Linked DNA regions of Homo sapiens: region 2 is linked to region 1. Evidence: fine-mapped expression QTL. A gene starts in region 1. The other region holds a variant in brackets. All regions are shown on one strand. Distances are between the middles of the regions. Region 1 holds the start of SLC35F6 (solute carrier family 35 member F6). Region 2 has its middle 16 kb from the start of CENPA.

What was found. PIP is the estimated chance that this variant, and not a neighbour inherited with it, causes the effect. A credible set is the group of variants that fine-mapping cannot tell apart.
Region 2: its variant is the best candidate, but not a certain one, in a credible set for the expression of SLC35F6 in blood mononuclear cells (TOPMed, PIP 0.62).

The regions. Positions count from the first base shown.
Region 1 is chr2:26,761,751-26,766,138 of GRCh38, reverse strand. It overlaps SLC35F6 (solute carrier family 35 member F6), which reads right to left and starts at 1,855. Exons shown (of 6, transcript NM_017877.4): 1 at 1,713-1,855. The coding sequence starts at 1,789. RefSeq lists a silencer at 1,679-1,988 and an enhancer at 1,999-2,198.
Region 2 is chr2:26,799,663-26,804,050 of GRCh38, reverse strand. No RefSeq gene overlaps it. Among named protein-coding and RNA genes, the nearest start is that of CENPA, 16 kb to the right of the region's middle. The variant AAT/T (reference allele first, on the strand shown) is at 2,588.

The sequences.
Region 1 (4,388 bases):
CAGGGGACAGGACCAAAAGTTGGGTCTGTCACCTGGGAGCCTCTTTCCTGACTCTCAGGCAGCCTTTAAAGGCGACGCCTTCTGGGATTGAGGATCTCTAAGCTTCCTACCTGACTGGTTTGGAGTTTTCTAAGGAAGGAGGTGAATCAGCACAGTTTACCCCAGCAGTAACTGGCAATCTGGATTCTCCTTGTGGGCAGCAGCCCTGGTGGACTTACAACCGCTCTCTAAGCACTTGACAGAGGCCCTGGCTGGCATGACAGAACAGAAGACTTGCTTTGCTGTGTTCAGATCCTGAGATGGGAGCCCTCAGGCTGGGGCCTCTGAACAGCTAAGGATTCAGCATGAGGAGTGATCCTCAGGAGGATGCAGGGCCTGGGAAGCTAGTAGTTCTCCACAAGGCACAGTTGGCCAGAGGTGAACCAGAGGAACAGGTGGGGCCCACCCAGGACTCCACTGACTGTGCCCACCGTTTGGGGAAGGGAGAACACTGTGACTGTCGTGTGCGTACACGTCTGTCTCCTCCACCTCAGATTCCAAGCATCTCAAAGGCAGAGATCGCCTCTTGGTCACTTCTGTCCCCTTCCCTTACACACCGTAGGTACCTTATACATGGGATCGTGCCATTGCACTCCAGCCTGGGCAACAAGAAAAGGAGGGGCAGGAAGGCCCTGCCCTGAGATGGAGACAGAGAGAGACAAAGAAATGCCATCCTGCCCACAACAGAGGGGAGGCTAGGCCCTGTCCCTCAGTCTCATGACTGCCTGGGTCCTTAGTCCCTAACCTCCTGGGAACTGTCCCCCCTCTCACCCCCATACATCAGAGCTGAACTGGCCACTTGCCCTCTCTGTCTGAGTTAATGGCACTTTTCTTCTCCCAGGCAGAAACCCTGGAGTGATCCTTGTTTCTTGCTCATGTGGGTCAGGCCTGTGGCCATTCACACCTGGTCTCTGCCACCAGTTGTCCCTTCCTTTCTCTTCTCACTGCCACCTCCTAGTTCCCCTCATCTGCTATGCAGCAGCCTTGGAGTGGTTTTTCCTGCACCAAACCACTCCTCATGTCATTGAGTCAATCATATCACTTTCAACATGTCATTCCCCAGCTCAAAAGCACTTTTCTGATTATGAGAGAAAATCTAACCTGGGCATTTGATGCTGGTTACAATCGACTTTGATCTGGCCTTTCCGTAGACTTTCCTTGACTTACAGTCTCAGACACATTCCGAAATCCCACCTAAGCTTCAAAGCACAGCTCTAACCCCTCATCCTTGAGGGGCCGTGGGGCACCTCCCTGTCTGCCGCTTGAGGCCTCCACGCTCACTGGGTCACTCGGCCTGCACAGCCACTACTGCGGCTCATGTGCACAAGTCCAGGGGTCTCTCCCAGCTCGTGGAGGGAGGTGCTCAGGCTTGGACGCCAGCACTGGAAGGGCCGTGGAAAGGAATCGGCCAACCCTCCTGTTAAAAGACGTGGAAACAGGAGCGGAGGCTGTACAGCAAATCAAAGCCGGGGCTCGGATCCCCCCGTCCGGGGCGCAGCCCCGCTCCGCATTTCCCCGGGCCTCGCATCCCTTGGGTGGTCATAACGCGCGCGAACTGACCGGAGCAAGTGGGAAAGCAGGGGAAGCCAGGAGGGCAGGGCCAAGAAGGGGGAAGGCGTAGAACGAGCGCCGGGGTCGCCAGGGCCCGCACGCCCGGCAGGGCCCAGACTCACTTTGCCGAGAGCGTGTTGATGGAGCCGGTAACAAGCATGAGCCCGGCCAGGAACAGCTGGTACTTGGTCCAGGCCATGTCGGCGGACGCTGGGGTTCGCTCCAGTTAGCGGCGCCGGGCCCCGTCACCCGGGGTCTCCTGCGCGAGCGCTTCCGGGCCGGGCGTCACGTGACCCCTCCTGCTCGCCCCGCCCCCGGGGAGCGCGCCTGAGCCACGGTGCCCGCGCTCTGCCGAGTCGTCCTGGAGCGCTTTGGTGGCCACGCCGTGGCCCTGGCAAATCACGGCCCAGGCCTTCCAGTTTTTTTTTTCTTTTCTTCCTCACTCTCCCCCGCCTTTTTGGGTTTCTTTTTTCTATTTTTTTGAGAAGGAGTCTCACTCTGTCGCCCAGGCTGGAGTGCAATGGCATGATCTCGGCTCACTGCAATATCCGCCTCCTGGGTTCAAGCGATTCTCCTGCTTCAGCCTCCCGAGTAGCTCGGATTACAGGCGCCCTTCACCACGCCCGGCTAATTTTTTGTATTTTTAGTAGAGACAGGGCTTCACCATGTTGGCCAGGCTGGTCTCGAACTCCCGACCTCAGGTGATCCGCCCTCCTCCGCATCCCAAAGTATTGGGATTACAGGCGTGAACCACCGCGCCTGGCCTTGGTTTCTTATTTTTATCTTTGGGTCTTCCTATTTGTAAAAGGGGCGGATGGGACAGTGCAGTGAGGGTGCATCGTGGCTATTACAGCATTTTGTGAATCGTTTTGAGAGGTTGAGCTGGGCGGTGTCAGAAAGGAGCCCTGAAGTGGGCCTGCCGGGAGTTCCTTGGGGACCCTGTAGAGAGGAGATTCCCACGCTGGACGTTTCCACTTCGGGGCTCCTATCTGATACCGCCCACCTTGGGCACAGTTCATATCTTTCAGCAAAGTGGCGAAGGCATCTAGCTCCAGTTGCCGAGGACACCATTTTATAGCTGAGGACAGTAAATTCAGCGAAGCAGAGTGATTTGCTTAAGAACCTGCTGGTGAGCAGTGGGGTAGGGATTTGCGCTTGGGTTCTCCAGTCTCCAAAAATCCGTGCCTTCCGCATGGCCTCTGCACCAAGCCCTGCTTCACTGCTCCTTTGTGGACTTTCTGGTCGCAGCTGAGGCATCCAGGCAGAAAGACCATCCCTAGGTTTGTTTGAAGAGGGTGTTGACGAAGAGTCACACTCTAAAATATTTGAAGGGATTTATTCTGAGCCAAATATTTGTGACCATGGCCCGTGACACAGCCCTCAGGAGGTCCTGAGAACATGTGCCCAAAGTGGTCGGGGCGCAGCATTTTAGAAAGACACGAGACATCAATCAAATACATTTAAGAAATACATTGGTTTGGTCCAGAAAGGTAGGACAACTCAAAGCCGGGAGGAGGGGAGAGGGTGGGGCAGGAAACGGGAAAAATATCTATCTATGTTAATAGAGATTTTTGTTTTTTTTTGAGACGGAGTCTTGCTCTGTCGCCCAGGCTGGAGTGCAGTGGTGCGATCTCGGCTCACTGCAACCTCCACCTCCCGGATTCAATCAGTTCTCTGCCTCAGCCTCCCAAGTAGCTGGGACTACAGGTGCCTGCCACCACGCCTGGCTAAATTTTGTATTTCTAGTAGAGATGGGGGGGGTCTCACCATGTTGGCCAGGCTGGTCTTGAACTCCTGATCCACCTGCCTCGGCCTCCCAAAGTGCTGGGATTACAGGCGTGATCCGCCACGCCCGGCCGGTAATAGAGATTCTTTACAGATGCAAATTTTCCCCCACAAAAGACAGATTTGCAGGGCCATTTCAAGATATGGCAAAGAAAAATGTTTTGGGGTAAAATCTTTTGACTTTCTTCTTAGTCACATAATATTATGCCAGAGTCAGATTGGAAAGTAAGTCATGATATATAGGGTTAAATAAAACCCATCTGATGAGAATTTATGGTTTGTAGGGCATGACTCTCCAGACCTCTTAGGTAGGAATTTGGGCAAGGTAAAAAAAATCAGAGCTTAGTCCTCAAGGGGTTCTGGTGTTTAAAATCCTACTCTTGGCTGGGTGTGGTGGTTCACACCTATAATCCTAGCACTTTGGGAGGCTGAAGCGGGCTGATTGCTTGAGCTCAGGATTTCCAGACAAGCCTGGGCAACATGGCAAAACTCAGTCTCTACTAAAAATGCAAAAATTAGCTGAGTGTCATGACAAGTACCCATAATCCCAGCTACTCAGGAGGCTAAGTAGGAGGATCGCTTGAGTCCCTGGAGGTGGAGGTTGCAATGAACTGAGATCATGCCACTATACTCCGGCCTGGGTGGCAAAGTGACACCCTGTCTTAAAAAAAGAAAAAAAAAAGGCCAGGCGCGGTGGCTCGCACCTGTAATCCCAGCACTTTGGGAGGCTGAGGCAGGTGGATCACCTGAGGTCGGAATTCAAGATCAGCCTGACCAACATGGTGAAACCCCATCTCTACTAAAATACAAAAAATTAGCCAGGTGTGGGGGTGCATGCTTGTAATCTCAGCTACTCCGGAGGCTGAGGCAGGAGAATCGCTTGAACCTGGGAGATGGAAGTTGCAGTGAGCCAAGATCGAGCCATTGCACTCCAGCCTGGGCAACAAGCGCGAAAACTCCATCTCAAAAAAAAAAAAAAAAAGAAAGAAAAAGAAAAGAAAAAACTGCTCCTA
Region 2 (4,388 bases), 38 kb before region 1:
GCCAAGATTGTGCCACTGCACTCCATCCTGGGTAACAGAGTGAGATCCTGTCTCAAAAATAAATAAATAAGATAAATTATTCTCTGGTGTACCAAAGGCATAATTAATGAGGTTAAGACAAGGGAAAGCAAAGTTGAGATATATATGTGAGTGTGTATCTTAAATATATATACCTAATATATATATATCTCCCTATGTATAATATATATGTATATATCTCCCTATATATATAAAATAAATACTTAAAACTTTCTGAAACGTAATTACTTGAGTGACTGGTGAGGTTTTTTTTTTTTTTTTATCACTGAAGGTATTCAAATAAAGGTTGACTGTTACAGAAGACATTCAAGTAAAATGACTTTTTATTTATTTATTTTTTTTGAGACAGGGTCTTGCTCTGTCGGCCAGGCTGGAGTGCAGTGGCACGATCTCGGCTCACTGCAACCCCTGCCTCCCGGGCTCAAGCAATTCTCCTGCCTCAGCCTCCTGAGTAGCTGGGATTACAGGCATGTGCCACCACGCCCGGCTAATTTTTGTATTTTTTTTTTTTTTTTAGTAGAGACAGGGTTTCACCATGTTGGCCAGGCCGGTCTCAAACTCCTGACCTCAGGTAATCTGCCTGCCTTGGCCTCCCAAAGTGCTAGGATTAAAGGCGTGAGCCACCGCACCTGGCAGTAAAATGACTTTTAAGATATGTTCTGAGGCTGGGCGTGGTGGCTCATGCTTGTAATCCCAGCACTTTGGGAAGCTGAGGCAGGCGCACCACGTGAGGTCAGGAGTTTGAGACCAGCCTGACCAACATGGAGAAATCCCATCTCTACTAAAAATACAAAATTAGCCAGGCGTGGTGGCACATGCCTGTAATCCCAGCTACTCGGGAGGCTGAGGCAGGAGAATCACTTGAACCTGGGAGGCGGAGGTTCTGGTGAGCAGAGATCACGCCATTGCACTCCAGCCTGGGCAACAAGAGCAAAACTCCATCTCAAAAAAAAAAAAAAAAAAAAGACATGTTTTGACCCTGAAATTCTATGATGAGTTCAAGCTGAACATCAAGTATGGCCAACAGGGATTGCTGAAGGATGACAGGAAGGGTGCGGTGGCTCGCGCCTGTAATCCCAGCACTTTGGGAGGCCGAGGTGGGTGGATCACCTCAGGTCAGGAGTTCGAGACCAGCCTGGCCAACATGGTGAAACCCCATCTCTACTAAAAATACAAAAATTAGCCGGGCATGGTGGCATGTGCCTGTAGTCCCAGCTACTAGGGAGGCTGAGGCAGGAGAATCACTTGAACCTGGGAGGCAGAAGTTGCAGTGAGCCGAGATCACACCACTGCATTCTAGCCTGCAACAGAGCAAGACTCCGTCTCAAAAAACAAAACAAATAAACAAAGCCAGAAGACCATGAAGAGAGGGTTCTTATGCATAAATGCCTGATAACAAAAACTATCATAAAAGACTCTACAAAAACCAAAACCTTACTTGGGCCATTGTAACCTTAACACACAAAATAATGGTCCGTAGTCCGGGCACGGTGGTTCACACCTGTAATCCCAGCACTTTGGGAGACTGAGGCTGTCGGATCACTTGAGGTCAGGGGTTCAAGACCAGCCTGGCCAACATGGTGAAACCCAGTCTCTACTAAAAATACAAAAATTAGCTGGGCATGGTGGCGGGCACCTGTAGTCCCAGCTACTCGGGAGGCTGAGGCAGGAGAATTGCTTGAACCTGGGAGGTGGAGGTTGCAGTGAGTGAGATTGCGCCACTGAACTCCAGCCTGGGCGACAGGGCAAGACTTCATCTCAAAAAAAAAAAAAAAAAAAGGTCCATGAAGCACTTTCAGACCCAGTACCTTAGACCTAGTGTCATCCCGGAAGTTGCCATAGCCCTTTCCTTTCCCCACTTGGAGCTTATCACTGCCTCTTAGCCCACTGCTGGACGAGACTCAGCTGTCCTCCTCCACTCCTCTCTCCAGAAAACTCCACTGCCATGAGCATGGAGGGAAACAGCCTTGTCCCCCAGGACCACAGCCCTGTAGAGTTCCTGTGAATGTGCACAACTCAAGCAGGCTCTCCCCACGGCCTACGCCAGAACACAGGGCAGGAGACACCAAGGGCTCCAGCCCAGCCGAGGATTTCAGGGCTCTCAGGAACGGATGAGCAATGCCTTTTTAAAAAGTGATCAGTAAAGTGAAGCAGCCGAAGATGTGCTGAGTCCCAGTGGTGTCTGAAGGGTGCTGGTTGGGGCTTGGGAGAGGATGAGTATTTTTGGGGAGAAACAAGGATGATTTGGGGCCCCCTGGATTTGGTGGGCCAGGCCAAATAGAAGTGAGTCAGGCAGGCTGCTGGTAAATACAGCAGACAAATAGGCTTCTCTAAACAGCATGTAAGGCCGTGGATTTGGAGGTTTGTAATAAGAGGTTGCAGAAAAGCAGGGAACTTAAATCGATCCTAGAAACAATTAGGAATCTACTTCTACCCTTCTGCTGTCGCATGGTGTAGCAATATTGGCCCAGTGCCAGGGAGGGGAGAAATTCTCAATTCAAATGCTTCGGCTGCTCCTTCAAGATGAATTTGGTTTTTCAATCCACTC[AAT/T]GTCTTGGGAGCTCTAAATCTGTCTTGTATAAGTGATGTGTTGTCTGCAGTTGAGAGCATCAAATCAGTGCTGAAAGAGCATTATACACTGAAAACCTGTATCAGTGTAAGGCATTATTATTACTCTGTTACTCAAGCGGAGGGATGTCCTGCAGGATGGAAAATTGAGGCAATTGAGGCAAATATTCAAAAAATATGTGTCAAATGACTTTGTTACACATTTCTTAAAAATCTGCAAAAATATGCAATATACTTACTGAGAATATTAATGTGAGGTTGGAGGCAGAATAACTCATAGAATTTTAGAAGGGGCGTTCATAACCATCTATGGAGGGTGGACTTGAGGATCTCATGGAAATCATGGCTCCTCTCAGAAAAGTGCACAAAACACAGATTTATGAAGTTACACAGAATTTTTATTTCTTTATTTAAAAAAAAATAGAGACAGGGTCCGAGAGGCTGAGGCAGGAGAATCGCTTGAACTTGGGAGTTGGAGGTTGCAGTGAGCCGAGATCGTGCTGCTGCACTCCAGCCTGGGTGAGAGAGTGAGACTCTGTCTCAAAACAACAACAACAACAACAACAACAAACAGAGACAGGGGCTTACTGCTGCCCAGGCTGGTCTTGTCACAAAATCCTGGCCTCAAGCAATCCTCCTGCCTCAGCCTTCCAAAGTGCTAGGATTACAGGTGCTCAGTCGGAATTTTTAAATATATATATTTAAATATATACACAAATATATATATATATTTGTGCATTGGAAATTAATTTCCTTCACACATTCAGAACATTTATAAAAACTTTACAAAGAACTGCCTCTCAGGCTGGGTGCAATGGCTCACACCTGAAATCCCAGCACTGTGGGAGGCTGAGGAGAGTGGATCACTTGAGCCCAGGAGTTTGAGACCAGTCTGAGCAACATGGAGAAAACCCATCTCCACTAAAATAAATACAAAAATGGCTAGGCACAGTGGCTCACGCCTGTAATCCCAGCACTTTGGGAGGTCGAGGCGGGCAGATCATGAGGTCAGGAGATCAAGACCATTCTGGCCAACATGGTGAAATCCCGTCTCTACTAAAAATACAAAAATTAGCTGGGTGTGGTGGCGTGTGCCTGTAATCCCAGCTATTTGGGAGGCTAAGGCATGAGAATTGCTTGAACCTAAGAGGCGGAGGTTGCAGTGAGCCAAGATCGCGCCACTGCACTCCAGCCTGGTGACAGAGTGAGACTCTGTCTAAAAAAAAAAAAAAAAAAAAAAATTAGCCAGGTGTGGTGGTGTGCTCCTATATTCCCAGCTACTCGGGAAGCTGAGGTGGGAAGATCACCTGAGCCTGGGGAGGTCGAGGATGCAGTGAACTGTGATCACACCAATGCCCTCTAGCGTGGGTGACAGAGTAAGATCCTGTCTCAAACAAACAAACCCCCCAAAAAAATGCATCTCCAAGTCTCTTTTTTTTTTGTTTTTGAGGCAAAAGTCAGTAGCCAATATTTGTAACCCCCAAACTTGAAACTATCCAAATGTTCAATAGAATGGAAATATACAAATTTAGGCATAGGCCGCTCTGCCTACAGAGTAGCTATGCTTTATTCTTTCACTTTCTTAATAAACTTGCTTTCACTAAAAAAAAAAAAAAAAAATTTAGGCATATCCACACAATGAAACCCTATGCAGCAGTAAGAATTAACACCATAAACACATGAGAAAATATAAATTTCACAAACATGTTGACTGAAAAACACAAAAGAATATATGCTCTATAATTCCACTTACTACAATAATCAAAATGAATCTATGGTAT